2 separate regions of the Homo sapiens genome follow, and region 2 is linked to region 1. A link means that fine-mapping ties the variant in region 1 to the expression of a gene that starts in the linked region. Tissue or cell type: putamen. Region 1 holds a variant in brackets; the other region holds the start of a gene. All regions are shown on one strand. Distances are from middle to middle.

Region 1 (8,106 bases):
TATAAATTAGCATATGATAATATTCTTTTTTTTTTTTTTTTTTTTGAGACGGAGTCTCGCTCTGTCACCAGGCTGGAGTGCAGTGACACAATCTCGGCTCACTGCAACCTCTGCCTCCTGGGTTCAAGTCAACTGCAACCTCTGCCTCCTGGGTTCAAGTGATTCTCCTGCCTCAGCCTCCTGAGGGACTAAAGGCATGCACCACCATGCCCAGCAATTTTTTGTATTTTTAGTAGACACAGAATTTCACCATATTGGCCAGGATGGTCTCGATCTCTTGGCCTCATCATCTGCCCGGCTCGGCCTCCCAAAGTGCTGGGATTACAGGTGTGAGCCACCATGCCCGGCCGATAATATTCTTAAAAGATCACTCTGACTATTGGGGTGGGGGGGAGTGGCTTGGAAATAGGGAATTAGATAGATGTTGAAGTAGTACTGTTGAGAGATAATAGTGACTTGGATAGGGTGGTAGCAATAGCGATGAAGAGAAAAACCTGAGATATATTTTAGAGGTATAATTGATAGGAGTTGATGACGGATTCGATGAAGAATGAGGCTAAGAGAGGAAATAAGGGTGACATCTAGATTTTATTCTAACAACTGGTTGGATGTTGGTGCCATTTACTGAGATATGGAAGACTGTAGGAGAAATAGATTTATTTCTGGGACACGGATGGTGAATCAAAGGTTCTATATTAGATAGGATCAGTTTGCAATGCTTATGTGGCATCCAAGTGGTGATATCAAACAGATAATTGAATATATGAGTTTGAAACTGGAAAGATTTAAGATGAAGATATAAATTTGAGAATCATGAGTATACAAACACCACTTAAAGCCACTGGGCTGAAAAGATAAATAAGGAAGAAAATACAGATAGAGAGAAGAGGTCCCAGCAACATGTCTTTAGGCACTAAAACATTAAGAACCTCAGATAAATTTAGATACATAAATATATAGTGATATCACTCTCCTTTTAAATTATCTAATTTTCCTTTGGCAATTTCTAATCATTTCTTTGAATAACTTTTTTTTTCTTTAAGGGCTAAAAATAGTCTTCACCCAAGAATGAATTATGTTTGCCCTCTTCCATGAATGTGTTGCTCTCTCAAAGGATTCTGTGCAACAGTTATTTCTGGCCTAAAGTAATTGTGCAAATGAGTTAGCAGCTAGATCACTGCAGAACTATATTGAGTAGGTTTGTAGTACAGCAAAATAAACTGTAAAACAGATGGTGTGCCTTAGAAATTTATCTCTTTTCAGCATCACACAACATTCGGGTTGGGCCATTTAATTATTTGTTTTCTAATTAGCACATACTTTATTTCTGGCTTTGGTCATTTTTCTAGTAGTCTCCATTTTTGAGCCTCTGTAACATTTGTCTCTATGAAGTCTTTGCCAAATGGATAGAGAAGTGACAGATATTGTATACTATATTGGATTGTCCTAAGGAATTCAGTGGATGAAATTTAGAATACTGGCATTTTACAAACTTCTGAAAGGCAAAACTCTTCTTAACCACTTGAAGTCTTACTTTCTATGATTCATATCCCCTGTTTGAAGTAATCTAAAGAAAATATGTAGTTCTCTCAGCGCCCTGCTGCTTTACAACCAGAGCTTACCTTTTGTAATACCTAACACATAGTAACATTTTTCTATAAAGTTTCTATGGTTTAGCCTATGTACTGTGCATTTTGAAATGTGGTAAATATCTGAAAAGTATTCTAAGAAAAATAACTATTTCTCTTGTACATTTAAGGGAATGGAATTTCAAATAAACACATACATATTGTCATCCTGATTTAAAAAGTCAGTGGTTAGATGGAAGGAAAAATACCCAATAAATGACTTTCTTGCAAAGGAAGAGTTTGACTCTAATGGCCGGAGTATGCCGGTTCTTTTCTTTCATTCATTTCTTCCTTGTTTCCTTTTACTGTCAACTGTGGTTCAGGAGTTAATTGCTTCTTATTAGATAATTGCCTTGGTATTCCTTCAAGTCTCCTGGTGACAAATAACACCAAGAATTTACATTTTTAACAAGTTCCCCAGGTATTTCTTCTGCCCACTTATATTTAAAAGCCACTGCTATAAATTAAGGAAGTCAGTTTTTCTTTTATGTCTTGCCATAATGTAGTTTGAGCTTTAATGATATTCAAACATTAATTCCTTCAACACATTGTGTGTACACGCACGTGTGCCCCTACCAGGTACTAGGTGCTAGGTATAAAATATAGTTAAAGCCACGTAAGACGTGGTCTCTGACATAAGGAACTTACAATTTAGTAAGGAAAACAACCTATGTATAAGATTTAACGCAAGGAAGAAAATGATAAATGACTTAAGAAATTACAAAATGACCAGAGGTATGGAGGCAAGCAAGTATGAAGTCAGAAAGTTTAATTTGACTGGCAGATAAGAAGCTTGAAGGAAAGAAGTGAGAAATGAGACCAGAAAAGGAAAGAAAATTGTGAGACTAAGAAAAAAAAGAAAATCGTGAGTGGACTTGAACCAGGGTTACAATTTTAACTTCATTCCATAGGTAGTAAAGAAGAGTTGTATGCTCTTAAAGAAATTATTAATATTGTTAAAGTGCATCAGTCTTGCCAGGTGGCTTATTTTAAATAGGACATCAATCACTCAAATGTCTATATTGATTGTTGCAAGTATCATTTTATTTAATCCATCAGGTACTAGAGGGGTACAAAGATGAATAAAACGGTTCCTCTCCTTGAGTAATTAATTTACCACAAGTAAGTCTGTACTTTGCTTTATAGTCACAACCTTGCAAAAGCACTTTGTAATCAAGGTGTAGGGACTAATTTCAGAACGGTCTTTCCTAATGTATGAACAGGGCCTTTGTTCATTAATTTATGTATTGTTATTCGGGTTTTGATCATTGGCTTTTGACCTTTAGCTTTAACATATATACTCTATATAAGAGGATGGAAATTTTCTGATACCTAACTGTTGGCTGTTATTTTCTCCTTCTGTATATTTTCATCCTAAATATGTTAACTCTTACCTTTATTTTACTATATGTAGTTATTCATACATTCTGAATTATCTTATGTATATGAATATATTTTTGAGTCTCTAATGAAGCCTTCTATAAAAATTATGTTAAGGAGGCCGGGTGCGGTGGGTCACGCTTGTAATCCCAGCACTTTGGGAGGCCGAGGCAGGCGGATCACAAGGTCAGGAGTTTGCGATCAGCCTGGCCAATATGGTGAAACCCCATCTCTACTAAAAATACAAAAATTAGCCAGGCGTGGTGGCGGGTGCTGGTAGTCCCAGCTACTTGGGAGGCTGAGGCAGGAGAATTGCTTGAACCCAGGAGGTGGAGGTTGCAGTGAGCCAAGATCGCACCACTGCACTCCAACCTGGGTGACAGAGCAAGACTCCATCTCAAAAAAAAAAAAAAAAAATTATGTTAAGGAAAAGCTCATGAGCCAGGACACTTGGGGATTTACTCAGTATTCAATTATTGGTATATACTCAATAATTCAACAAATATTTATTGGATAGCTACTATGTGCTTTGGAGGACACAAGGATCAGTCTGGCATGGTCCCTGCCCACAGGTTGCCCACAGCCTAGTAGAGGGTTTAAAACAAAAACACGGGTAGAGAATGATAGATCAACAAGGATGTAAATGTACTACAACAACTACTACTAAATTTCCAAGAAGAGAGCTATTATTCTTTTAAGCAAGCTTATCCAACCCACAGCCCAGCACAAACTTGTAAACTTTCTTAAAACTTTATGAGATTTATTATTATTATTTTTCTTTTTTTTTGCTCTTCAGCTGTCATTAGTGTTAGTGTATTTTATGTGTGGCCTAAGACAATTCTTCTTCCAGTGTGGCCCAGGGAAGCGAAAAGATTGGAAACCCCTGCTTTAGGGGATTATAAAAATTACTTAAGGGTGGAGGTAATATGTGATCTGGCTTTTTAAAAAGTGGGTAAAAATAGAAATTCATGTAGGAGTCGGGGTAAGGAAGGTAAGAGAATTCTAGATAGAAATAACTTTTCAAAGGCATAAAGATAGAAAAAATATGAAGTATATTCAGAGAATAATTTGTAGTTCCTTTTTTTCTATAACCATAGAAGGCATACAGGAGAGTAGTGGGAAATTATGTTGAAAAGGAAGGTTAGAGCTATTTTGTTCTAGACCCTAAGAGTTTACATTTGATTCATTTGGCAATGACTTACTACTGAAAGGCACTCAAGTGCCATGATTGCTGCTGTGCTTGTGTGAGTTTTCTCTTTTGTCCCTCTCACCCTTGGAGCGTTATGTGAGTGGACTTGGATGAGGTCTGTGGGCTAGAGATAGTGACTAGATTCTGAGGGAAGAACTCGAATGTAGTATCTTGCCTGAGATAGTCTGAATCTCAGTTGAATCTAGGAAGAGCCCTAGGAATAAATTGGAGTTGAAGGTCTTGAGGGAGCAGGTGGTGGCTAAAGGGTGGAAGCAGGGTCTTAACGAGGAGGTGAACCAAGAGTCAGGAGTTAAATAGAAACAAGATGAGTATTGGAACAGGCTGGGAACAAGTAGCCAAGTGTTTGAGACTCTATCAGTTAGTGAGTTGGTGGATGCATTGTTTGCCAGGACAGACGGAACTTCAGTAAGAGTTATCTGGCAACAGTGTGTGATATGGTTGTCGTGGTGGCAAGCAGAAACCGGAGAACTGAAGTAGGACTGGGGTAAGATAACGAAGACTGAAACTAGGGCAGTGAGTGGGAACAGAGAAGAGGGGAGAAAGAAGACCTGAGAAAGAAAACATAATTTTGTAACTAAGTAGAAGTGTGAGGTAAGAGAGTA[A/G]GAGCAATCAAAACTGCTTCTTAGGTGACTAGGAAAATGGTGTGAGACAAAATTAAAGTCTAGAAGTGCTGGTTTTGTAGATTGGAACAAGAATGAAGTGTTTTTGGAACAATCTGTTCAAACTTTTATGCTTGAATGATAACAAAAAAGAATTTTGAAAAATGACGAGTCTTCTCAGATATTTTTAGGTTGAACTTTAAAAATTTTCACCATAAATGTAATTAATTGCAAGGGGTATAATTTATCATATAAACATTTGTAATTAAAAATAAAGCTAATATCAGTTTTTTACCCATATGGGACATCCATCTCATTCACTTTTAGATATTTATGAACAAGTTCTTCTTTAACAGAAACTAGGTTATTCATTCTTCTCTTTGAATTTGTGTCTCTATTTTTCTATTCTACTTCTTCCACAGAATTTTATCCTAATGTAATATTTTTGCTTGAATGGATTTTATTAATCACCTATAATTTGTCTCATTTTACAAAAAAAGTTCAAATTTATATTTAAATTTTTTTTTATTTCCTGGGACTCTAAGGCTCTATAATTTCTAAAAATTATTTAAGAATGACTTTTCATTATGATTATTATCAGTAGTATATAATTGATCAAGAGAACATGATTATAATTTTTTAGAATTACTAAACATAACAGTATCATATTGGAAATGCTTTAGTGGATGGATAGGGCTGCTTTCCCTCCCAATTAATTCATTCATACACGATTGAATATTTCTATTGTTAGAATGAGACAATATTCAGCAATGTTGTATTGTTTTTAGTTTTAATAGACACTGAGAACCTTATATAAATAAGTGGATAGGAACGGAAGGAGTTTTGACATAGTAGTGTCATGCAGTTCATCACAGCTGTTTGAGTTACGTTTCAAGACCACTCAGTGAAGGGCCTGCTGGAGGAGACTCTGGTTCCTGCCAAGATACTGTGTCTTCTCTGAAGATTAAACCTAAAGTAACTTTAGAGAGAAACCTCATGATACCAGGATTCAGAGAAGAGTGAGAAATCCCTGGGAAAATAAAGGGATAGCTTGAGCTGGTATGGATAGTGGGTGAGGCTGCAGCCAAGGCAGGGAATTAAAATAGAAACACAAAACAACCCGGTTTTTCCTTTTTCCTCTTGTCATTTGCTTTGGGACACCAGTGCTTACATATCCCTTCACAAGGGTCTGAAGTAATAAAGTCGGAGCAGCACTGAAGCCGTGCCTGAATGAGAAGCCAAGGAAAATGTGTGGGAATTAACTCGTTGTAGGCATTGACTTCTTACCTCTTGGCCTCCAAACTCTAGGACTCCTGGCTGATACTTTTGGTGTACTTTAGGAGTACCTCCTCCTCAGATTATTTCTCCTGGCGGGAGGAGGTGGGTAAGTGTGAAACCCTGAACTGAGGAGTTGCTTAGTGGGGCAGGTTTTTGGTGTCTAAGGTTCTTCCCCATACTCTTCCTTGATCTCCCAAGGCCAAGGGCCAGGACTGGCTCTAGATCCATGCCTTGTCTTCTGGGGTGCCAATGCTTCCTGGGAAACAGGAGCTTAGGGGCCAAGTTTCAAACACCATTAGAAGAGAGTTTAGAATACACAGTCCTAGAATTTAAAAATTAACAAAGTGAACATACTAAGAGAGATAAGGGAAGATGTTGATAATATGAAGCAAGAATAAGAAATAAAAACAGAACCAAGTAGGTATGAAAAATATAATAGTTGAAATATAGAATGCAGTGATATAGGATACATAGTAGATACAACTAAAGAATGAATTTTAAAACTAGATGATCAGATTGTAGAACTTTATACAGAAGGGAGCAGGAGAGGATAAATAAGTTGAAAATATAAAAGAAAAGATATATGGGGTTAAAAGTAAAAGTGCCAAAATCCATCTAATAGGAGTCTCAGATTACAAAAATAAAAAGGGGGAGGAGGAAATCGTTTAAGAAATAATGGGGATAAATTCATCAGAATTAAAGAAAGACCTTAGCTTTAAAGAGATGATAGACTACCCAATAAGAGAGAAGAAAAAAACTGACAAATAGACGTAATGAAATTTTAAAACATCAATAAGAAAAATTCTAAAAGCTCCCAGAGAGAATGAGCAGATCATATAAAAAAGAACAAGAATCACATTGACATCCTACTTTTCAGCAGCAACATTGGATGCAAGAATAACTGGAGTAATATGTTAACTGTATTAAGGGAAAAAGAACTTTAAAGTTAAAATGTTATATCTATTCAAATTGTTATTCATATTAAAGGGAATGATTAAGATATTTTCAAATATACAAGAGCTCAGAGGGTTTGCCACAGGAGTTAAAACACATGGTAGAAGTACTTACAGAGGAGGAAAAACAAATCCAGGAGATGCCACAAGAGCCATGTGCAGCAAGAGTCTTTAAATGTCTTGGTAGAGTTCGCTGATATCAAAAAATACAAAAACAAAACACAAAACCAAAGAAGAGAAAACATAATCATGATAACCCAGAATTAAAATTCATGATAATATCCACATGAGGAGCACTGGGAAGGGGGCAAGGGCATGGGAGCAGCACATGAAAGTGTGCTAAAGGAGAATATGGAGGCATCAGATTTTTAAAGTAGGAAGGAATGAAAAACATATAAAGAGTGGGAGAAACTGAAATAACAATGATATGGAAGGGGGCAGAGACTGAAAATTAATGATATCTAACTTAACATTCCAGAATTTTAACAGAGTAAACCCAAATAAAGTAGTAGGAAAGATAAAACTAAGAGTGAAAATCAACTAAATAGAACTCAAAGGTAAAATAGAAAAGATCGACAAGGTCAGTATTTGGTTCTTTGAAAAAAACACAAAATAAATACATCTTTGGAAAAATTAAGACAGAAATAGAGAAAACAGGCTGGGCATGGTGGCTCACGCCTATAATCCCAGCACTTTGGGAGGCCAAGGTAGGTAGAGGAGGGCATAGTCCCTGGCTAGGGCTCCACCCCCAGGCATGTGCCCACAGACCTAGGTGAGGACAGGCATTTCTGTTTTCCTGCCTAAATGTTGCATTTTCCAAGACCACCCCTGCCTGACATGCCCCCATCCTGGGCCTGTAAAAAACCCGAGACCCTAGCAGGCAGACGCACAAGCAGCTGGACATTGAGAGTCACTCCGCGGCATAGGGCCAGCAGGCCTGCAAGCCATCCACCGGCAGAACAATACGGAGTTTGGCTGGGGCAGTTGGAGGAGAGCCCAGGCTGCTGAGCTGCCTGACTCCAGGGGAAAACCACCTTCCCACTCCATCTCCCTTCTGG
Region 2 (8,106 bases), 170 kb after region 1:
GCCGCTAATCAGATCTGAGCATAATGAATTGATTTAATTAACAGGGGAATCTGAGGGGCCCTGGGAAATGCAGCCTTCACTCTGCTGAGGCGAGTACGGCCGGCGCGGAGGAAGGACGCGCGCGCGGCTCAGGCTCCGGCTGCGGCCCGGCCCGGGCAGCTGCTGCTCGCGAGGCTCCCGCGATCCCGGCCTGGCCGTCTCGCCCCCGCGCCTTCCCCCCAGTCCCTCCTCCTGCGCTCCCTGCCCGCGGGGCTGCGCTCCGGACTCCGGTCCGTCTGCCCCCGTCGGCGGTCGCGGCTCTCCGGACTCGGCGCCCGCGCGGGGCCGGCGGGAGCAGCGCAGGCGGCCGGCGGCGGGAGTCGGAGCCACGCGCCCCTCCGTATCCTCGGCGCTAGTCCGGCTGGAGCCGTCGGGACCATGGTGTTGGACCAGGAGGACGGTAGGTGCCCGGCGCCCGGTGCCGGTGCCCGGGGGCACGCGGGACGTGGGGCGGAGACTGCGGCGCTGGCCCTGCGGAGTCCACCCCGCTAGCGGCGGCAGAGCCCTCAGCACCCGCGGGCCTCCTCCGGCTGATGGGTGGCTTCCCGGAAGCGCGGCGGCTGATGTGTGCGCCGGTGCCGGGGTCGGCGGTGCCAGGCTCAGCGCCCGGGCTTCGGCGGCGGCGGGATTAGGAAGTCTCCCGGTCCCAACGAGGCCGCCAGCCCTGCGCGCTCCGGCTGGGAACTTTCTCACGGACTCTTGCCGCCTTGCGGGCATCCGGAGCGCCTCTGCGACCCGCACCGCGGGCTTCCCGGCAGTGCCCACTGCCAGCCAGTCTCCCAGCCTCTCTGGGTGTCTGCACGTTCCCCTTCCGCACCCTACTGCGGAACGGATCCCAGCGGGGTGGTGGGGGTGCCCACAGATCCTGCAGGTGCAGGGGTGAGGGTGCCGTCAAACCAGCACTGTCTCTGCGGTCTGGCACTCCGTAGCTGCGGGATGGCTGACAATTGTCTCCGCCCCTGGCAGGGCTAGGGAGGGAACTGCCATCAGTTCACCCAGCCTGGCATGTTGGGAGGTGCCACGCTGGCTGGGGTAGGTGGGTGGGCCATCTAGTCCAAAATATCAGGTTCAACTAGAGGCGGTTTTACCTTGAAGCTAATGAAGTTTAGGGTCCTTCAGGTTCCTTCAGCTGCCAGGTCCTTGGTGGTAATTTGGTATTAGTAGTCTTGTAGTCCTTTTCTTAAAGAGCCCCACGCCCAAACTACAGTAAGCTTTGGACCTCACAAAATTTCCATCCATCCCTGGGTCCAACTCCTACCCTTTCCACTGCCAGTCTCTTGGAAGAACTCACAGCTCTGGCTGACCCAGAGACCATCCGCCGAGGCTGGGACAATCCCTTAGTGCCTGAAGGACGAAGTGCTGGGGCAGGAGGCTGGAAGGTTTGGGGTTGAGAGGCAACTTCTGGGCTGCAGGGAAAGGGTCTGGCTGCCTGGCCTTCCTCTCTGGCCCAGCTAGTCCCTTGACCCATCCTACCACCACTCACTATAGTGATCAATTGTCCTTGTTTGCTCAGGACGATCTCAATTTTAGTACTGAACATCCTGTATCCTAGGAAACCCTTGAGTCACAAGGCAAACTTGGACAGTTGGTCAGTGCACACCCAAAACCTTCTCAGGGCTGTGGTGCAGGGGTAGGGGAGATTTCTTTGCTATGGTGCAGATTTGGCTTAGGCCTCCACAAGGCCTAACAATCTATAACTGCTGCTTGCAAGAAGGCCTGTCCAGGCTCTCCAGAAACCAAAAGAGGAAAAGTTTGCCGACTGTGCACTTCTTCACTCCAGCGGGTTGCAAATTCCTGTGCATTGGCTGCTTTTGTGTAAGCAGGGGGAAGGGAAGGGCATCTGAACATGGCCAGCAGGCATCCTGATTGCACTGCGAAGTCTGTAGGTTTACTCTGTCCTGTCAACTGTGGTGGCCACAGAGAAGGGGTCCTCGTCACCCCAATACCTCTCTGAGCATCACCTGTGTGGCTAGCTTGTAACTCCGTCTTGGAGGCAGCTGCATTGTGTTGGGAGCAGGCCCTCTGGCTGAGGCACATCTGACAGTCTCCACCAAAGACTTCTGTAATATCTAGTCGGCCTGGGCCCTCAGGCCCTGGGTCCCACTATCTCCCACCCCCACTCCTAATGCAGGAACTCTTCCTCGGGACTTTCCTGCCAGGTGGAGGGGCAAATTGCTGGGACCTGCCCAGATATTTGTAAGACAGCCAGTAGCACCCACTTTCTCCTTAAACTAACCTTGGGGATTGATAGTTGTCCTCTCCCTGCCATTCCCAGAGGCATTTCGAGGGCATTTTGGAGCACTCTTGGCTTGTCGAAGTGAGAGTACATGCTCATCACCTGTGGAATGTGTTGGGGGAAAACTACCTCCCCCAGCCCCAGGGGATCTGAGGATTCCACTCTGGTGCTGTGGGCGTGTCCCTGGACCTAGAAGCAGCTTGGGTGGGGTGAGCATGGGGGTGGGGCGAGTATGGGGGTGGGAGTTACTTGCTTGCCCAGTGAGTGGAGAGAGGCCATCAGATGGGGTGAGTGATGTTTCTATCTGCCTCTGTCAACCCAGCAAGCCCCTTCCTGGCTGGAAGCTCAAGCCACCCAAACCCTCCAAGACTTGCTGTGAAGGTTCCTCTCCAGATCAGTTTGGGAGCACCATGCTCACAGCTGGGGGTGCAGAAAGAGCCACCTGTGGGCACACACAGCACCAGTCCCCTGCTGGCATGCCCTACCTGCTTCTGCAGCCCATTGCTCAGCACCCCAGGCCTGCTCCAGTCCCTGGGTTTGGGGCACAGGGCCCTGACTCCCCAAAGGGATGCCAGTCATGTGGCTGCCAATTAGGTACCTTGGAGGCTGAGGTGAGCTGGTATTCAGACAAACTCGTGGACAAGAGAGTGGAAGAGTGGCCACAGCTAGCCCAGTCCTGGTTTGTGGGTCAGGGCCAGCCCCTGAAAGTGAGGAGAATCTGCCCCTGGAGGTCAGTAGTAAGGCTGCATGCAGCCCCGATGGAGTGAACGCCTCCAGTAGCACAGAGGTTTCTACGGCAAGAAGTTGCCCCTTGCCAGCCTGTCAGGCCCTGTGCTTGCTACACTGTCTAGCCCCCAGCTCTGGTGGGTGTGAGGGGCTGGCACCAAATATGCCGGTGGCAGCGGTGCCAAAGCCTCCCTCAGACCCTGAGGGCATGGGTCTGGCGGCAGTGGCAGGGGAGAGATCAAGCTCGCAGTCCTGAGGCTGGTGAGTCTGAGCAAAATGATATATTTAACATCAAATATACTCAAGGACTATTAGGATTAAGTATTCAAGATGAAGGGGAAAGTGAAACCCTCTGAGCTGCAGATGAGGCATCTCATTAGAAGCAGCGCTTTTCTGTTTTCTCAAAGCCTGACTTCCCTGCCTAGCAGAGAGGAATATGGCTGCAGCCCGCTGCTCCCCATCCCTGTCAAGCACTGGGGCCTCCCAGGGCTTAAAGGGTAAGACCTAGCCTCCAGGTCTCCTTCAAACCAGATAATCTCCCCCCATCCCCCTGCATTGTCTGGAGTGCCACAGTTTACAAAGCACATTAACATGCATTAGCTCATCTGACCCCCACAGCAACCATAGATACAGGAAGAGTAGGTCTCCCACCTCACAGCCAAGGAAACTGAGGCCCAGATAGAGAAAGAGACTTGCTAAGGTCCACTGTTGGTAATTGGCAGAGATGAGATAGAATCCCAACTGGTGGCCCTTCAGCCCGTTTCTCTTTCCCTGGGTCTAGTCCTCAGAAGTGATTGCCAGGACCAAGCCTCCAACACATCTGTCTGGAGCCCTCCTTGGGCTGAAGAAAAATCATTATTTCTATCCCACCTTGGAACTCTGTACTGTCTAGGCAAAGAAAAAAGACTTGGGATTTAAAAGTAGGTGGCCTTCCGGCCAGGCGCAGCAGCTCACGCCTGTAATCCCATCACTGTGGGAGGCTGAGGTGGGTGGATCACGAGGTCAGGAGTTCGAGACCAGCCTGGCCAATATGGTAAAACCCCGTCTCTACTAAAAAATACAAAAATTAGCTGGGCGTGGTGGTGTGTGCCTGTAATCCCAGCTACTCGGAAGGCTGAGGCAGAAGATTCGCTGGAACCTGGGAGCCGGAGCTTGCAGTGAGCCGAGATCACACCACTGCACTCCAGCCTGGGCAACAGAGCAAGACTCCATCTTAAAAAAGAAAAAACAGAAAGAAAGAAAAAGGAATGAAAAGAAAAAAAGTAGGTGGGTAGGTGGCCTTCCTAGGGTAGGCAGCCAGAACATCAGCCCCAGGATTCTGGGGAGAAGCAGGGTCCAGGAGAAGAGATGGGCACTGTCTCTTTTCCTGCCTTATGAGTTACAGAGCAAGAATCGTCAACTCCATAATAGCAGCAGGAATCTTTGTTTTGTTCAGTGCTGTATCCCTAGTGCCTTAGAACTGTGCTTGGCACATAATACATGCTCAGTAAATATTTGTAGAATGAGAAAAGCTTTCAAGGCCATGCCTGTGCTTGCTTCGAGAGAAGTTGAGATAAGCTCTCCCGCTCCATGGAGTCAGGATGCTTTTGGGGGTGCTGCTGGGGTCAGGAGTAGTGCTGTAAGACTCGGTAGGATCGTTTGTGCCCTGAAGAGGGTTAACTTTGCCAAACAATCCGGGAAGCAACACGAAACCCCGGGCAGAACTGGTAGGAAGGAAAAGGATGTGATCAGAGAAATATTGCTCTGAAGAAGAGACAAAAATCAAGGCTGAGGGTCTGGGAGTGACAGATGGGATGCGTCCTCCAGACAATCATTGAAGACCACGACCCTGGGATCGGAGCAAAGACGCTCACCGAGCTAGGACCTAGAAGCCTCCAGGTGGCGCTGCGGAGCCGGACAGCCGTGCGTCTCCACTCCCCATTAACCCGGGAGGGTGGAGGCCTCAGGAAATGTGTGCATTTATGCAGTAGCAGGAGTGCAAACCTCATACATTGAGGGAGAAAGGCAGCGGGAGACGGCCACGAGATTCCCCCATCTCTTTGAATATAATTTTAGATTGAGATTCAGATTAAATCCGAGGGGAAAACACTTTATGAGGCTGAAAGCTGTGTCGTTGCCAGAGACAGGGTTATGAGCTATCAAATGCAATTACATTAAGACAGATTATACTGGGCAAATTGAGCCATTTAGAAGGTGAGAATCAAAGAAACGGCTCTGATCCTCTTTTCCCCCTTCTCTCTCCCTCTCCCTCTCTCTCTAAATTGCAGTTCGTAGTTCCTTCCAATTCTGAGGCACAAAAGTAGGTGAGACTGCTTTTGTATCTGCGAAGTGCTTCACTCCTGAATGTAATTCTAGCTGAGTGCAATCTAGGTTAAGAGCCGGACAAGCGGGTAATTAGAGCCCGCTAGCTGCCCGAAGACCGGCCGCCCCTCCAAAGCGCGCCCCGAGTCGGCGCCCTTCTCCCGGCCGAGCCTAGCTGCGGCTGGACACGGAGCGCCCGAGATGATGGTGCTGGACAAGGAGGACGGTAGGTGGCGGGCCGGGGTCTCGACGCCCCTCACCCCCTCGCCCCCTGCCGCGGCGCGCAGGCACACACACGCGGGGACACGGGCGCACACCTGCTGGGCTGTGCGGGGATTGCGGGGCGGGCGGCGCGCTGGGGGCCGGGGCTGGGGCGGGGGGAAGTACCGGGGGACAGCCGGGCGGAACTTGCGGGGGGAGGAGGTCGAGCCCCGGGCTGCACGCGCCCGGGGCCGCACGCCCCCCGGGTCCCGGCCGCGAGCCGAGGAGCTGTGCACTGGCCGTGTGCTGCGCCGCGGGGCCGCGCGGAGGCTGGGGCTCCCTTGCGATCTCCGCGCCGCGGAGGTTCGCTCTGAGCATTTCGTGTCTGAGGCTGCTGCTCTCACCGCAGCCATCACCCTCGCGCCAGCCGCCGCGTAACCCGAGAGGCGCTGAGCGCCGAGCAAATCAGCGGCTTCGGGGAGAATCGGGCTCCAGAGCTCGGGGCAAGCGGGAGCGCGGGAGGACGGCGCGAGCGCCAGGGTGCCCGGCAGGCGAGGGGAAGGCGGGTTGGACCCTCCGGGGGACATCTGCATGAGCGTGACTCGGTGAGAAAGAGAGCCGCCTCTTGTGCCGGCCCGCTAGCTCCCTGTCTCTCTGAGCGCGGAGGCGGGAGTTTGGCCCAGAGGAAGAAAGTGTCCCGCCGCCGGCCGGTAGCACTTGTGCGGGAGCGGCCTGCGAGAGTGGCACGGACCTTCCGTGGTCGAGCCTCAGTGCGCCCTAGAAAACTGCAGGGCACGGGAAAGGTCGGAACAGAGGAGCCCATGGCTGCTGGAAGCCACTAGCAGGTGGTCCCATAGACCCCAAAGCCTTACTGGCAGGGAGTGCCCTGCAGTTAAGTGTCCTAGAAGGCTGGGGATCCCAGCCCCCTTGGGGGGAAAGCCAAGTGGGTGCCCTAAGATGAGTCCCCAGGGTAAGGAGAGAGGCAGTACCTTGGCTGTCCCAGGACCTCCTGCCCTGTAGGTGAGGCCTGTGTGTTGGTGTTGCAGGGGCATTTGTATGTGACTGTTGGTGCCCACGCTGCCGCCGGCGTTCTGCCATTGGTGAGGTACCGAAAGGGTAGGTTTGCTTTGAGTCAGCGGGAATCCTCTTAAAGTGACTGTAGTGGCCATCCTCTGCCCTTCCGTTCAGGAGTCTCTGCTGGGCCTGAGCCCTCTGTCCCTGGGGCAGCGTTGTTATTGATGTGGCCAGTTGGTGAAAATGCAAAGCTAAGTGACTTGCTCAGGGTCACACAGGATGTTCGCATTGCCGCTGCCAGGTGCCGATGCCCCCAGGCTGCTACCGCCTTCTGAGACATCCAGCAGGGAGGGGGAATTTGAAGTATCTGGCCTGGGGGTGGCATCTAGGAGGACCTGTGGCTCTCAGTATGTGTGTAGGAAGAGAGAGGATGGGGGGAACCTCAGTGCTTCTGGGCTAGCTGGGGTGGGACATCATCTTCAATATGTCTTCTCTATTCACGGACCCCTTCCCTGGAGCCCCATGTAGGCCATCGGAGAACTTCATATAGAATGAAAAGGAGAAGAAGGGGTCTGGGGTTGGGCCAGACAGGGAGGGAAGAGACCTTGATTTGGTGCCTTTCATCACGAACTCCCCATGTTCACCTTCCCTCTTGGTAAAAATGAAGGGCTTGGAGAAGCCAGGGGAGAGGGTACTTCCTTGGTACCTGGAGATACTGTCACTATGGGGAGCATGCAAGGTTCATCTTTAGCAGAGGTTATTTGGCATACTTGGCTCCCCAGGCCCAAGCCAGGAATCCAGAAGACTCGGGCTCTGTACGTGAGAGGCCTCAGGCCAGGGAGATTGGTCTCATGCCAACAAGATGACACCCCCTACCTGCACCCAGGATCTTGCTCTGCCCAGGCACCACATGATGCCTCTGGCTCTGAGATAATACAAAGGGTTTCAGATGAGCCTTGAGTGAGAATGGATTTCTGGAGGTCATTTTAGCCAGCTCCCTGCCTCCAAATTGCAGTGTACCTCAAGCACCCTGGGCAGATGTTTCTTCTGGTTTCTGCTAGATCTGTGGAAGAGAGCTCCAGATGCCCCTCCATCCCCAGCCTGTCCAGCCTAAACAATATGGTGCCCACTACCATGGAGCTGCTGGGCTCTGGGGTCCATTACAGCACAAGCACATCCACTGGTGTCCTAAGCAGCCACCTATTCTTGTCCTACCCAGCCCATAGCTGTCTTTCAAAAGCGACGTTTCTGCTCATGCATCTGCACTCCACTCCCTATTAAGAGGAGTCTGGCCTCCCATAGTTCCAGGAAACCTTGAAGATGGCATCTTCAATTGGGGGAGGGAGAAAGGTTCTGGATGCACTCATCTGCTCCTCCAAACCAACCACCTATCTTCTTCTTGAACGCTTCTGCCCTCTCAGCAGGTGGCTATCTGAACTGGGTGGCAGCATTCCCCCACCCCCCGGCTCCCCCAAAGGGTGCGTTCCCTGCATACGGCACCTTTTGTCTGGCTGCAGCAGGGACTCAGGGCTGCTATTAACCACCCCCAACGCCTTTTCTCCACCTGACAGCATCTTGTCTGGAGAGGC

Direction of the effects. Positions count from the first base shown, and alleles are read on the strand shown. Sizes are in standard deviations (SD) of each study's normalised expression.
As copies of A replace G in region 1, the expression in putamen of the gene that starts at base 4,988 in region 2 goes down (large effect, 1.0 SD a copy in GTEx).

What was found. PIP is the estimated chance that this variant, and not a neighbour inherited with it, causes the effect.
Region 2: LMO1 starts here. The variant in region 1 is fine-mapped to the expression of LMO1 in putamen (GTEx, PIP 0.92).

Annotation. Positions count from the first base shown.
Region 1 is chr11:8,426,186-8,434,291 of GRCh38, reverse strand. All of the region lies in intron 14 of STK33 (serine/threonine kinase 33), which reads left to right. Among named protein-coding and RNA genes, the nearest start is that of STK33, 160 kb to the left of the region's middle. The variant A/G (reference allele first, on the strand shown) is at 4,821.
Region 2 is chr11:8,260,760-8,268,865 of GRCh38, reverse strand. LMO1 (LIM domain only 1) reads left to right here and starts at 4,988. Exons shown (of 4, transcript NM_002315.3): 1 at 4,988-5,528. The coding sequence starts at 5,504. RefSeq lists enhancers at 255-838, 839-1,423, 6,563-7,102, 8,033-8,106 and a silencer at 5,777-5,866.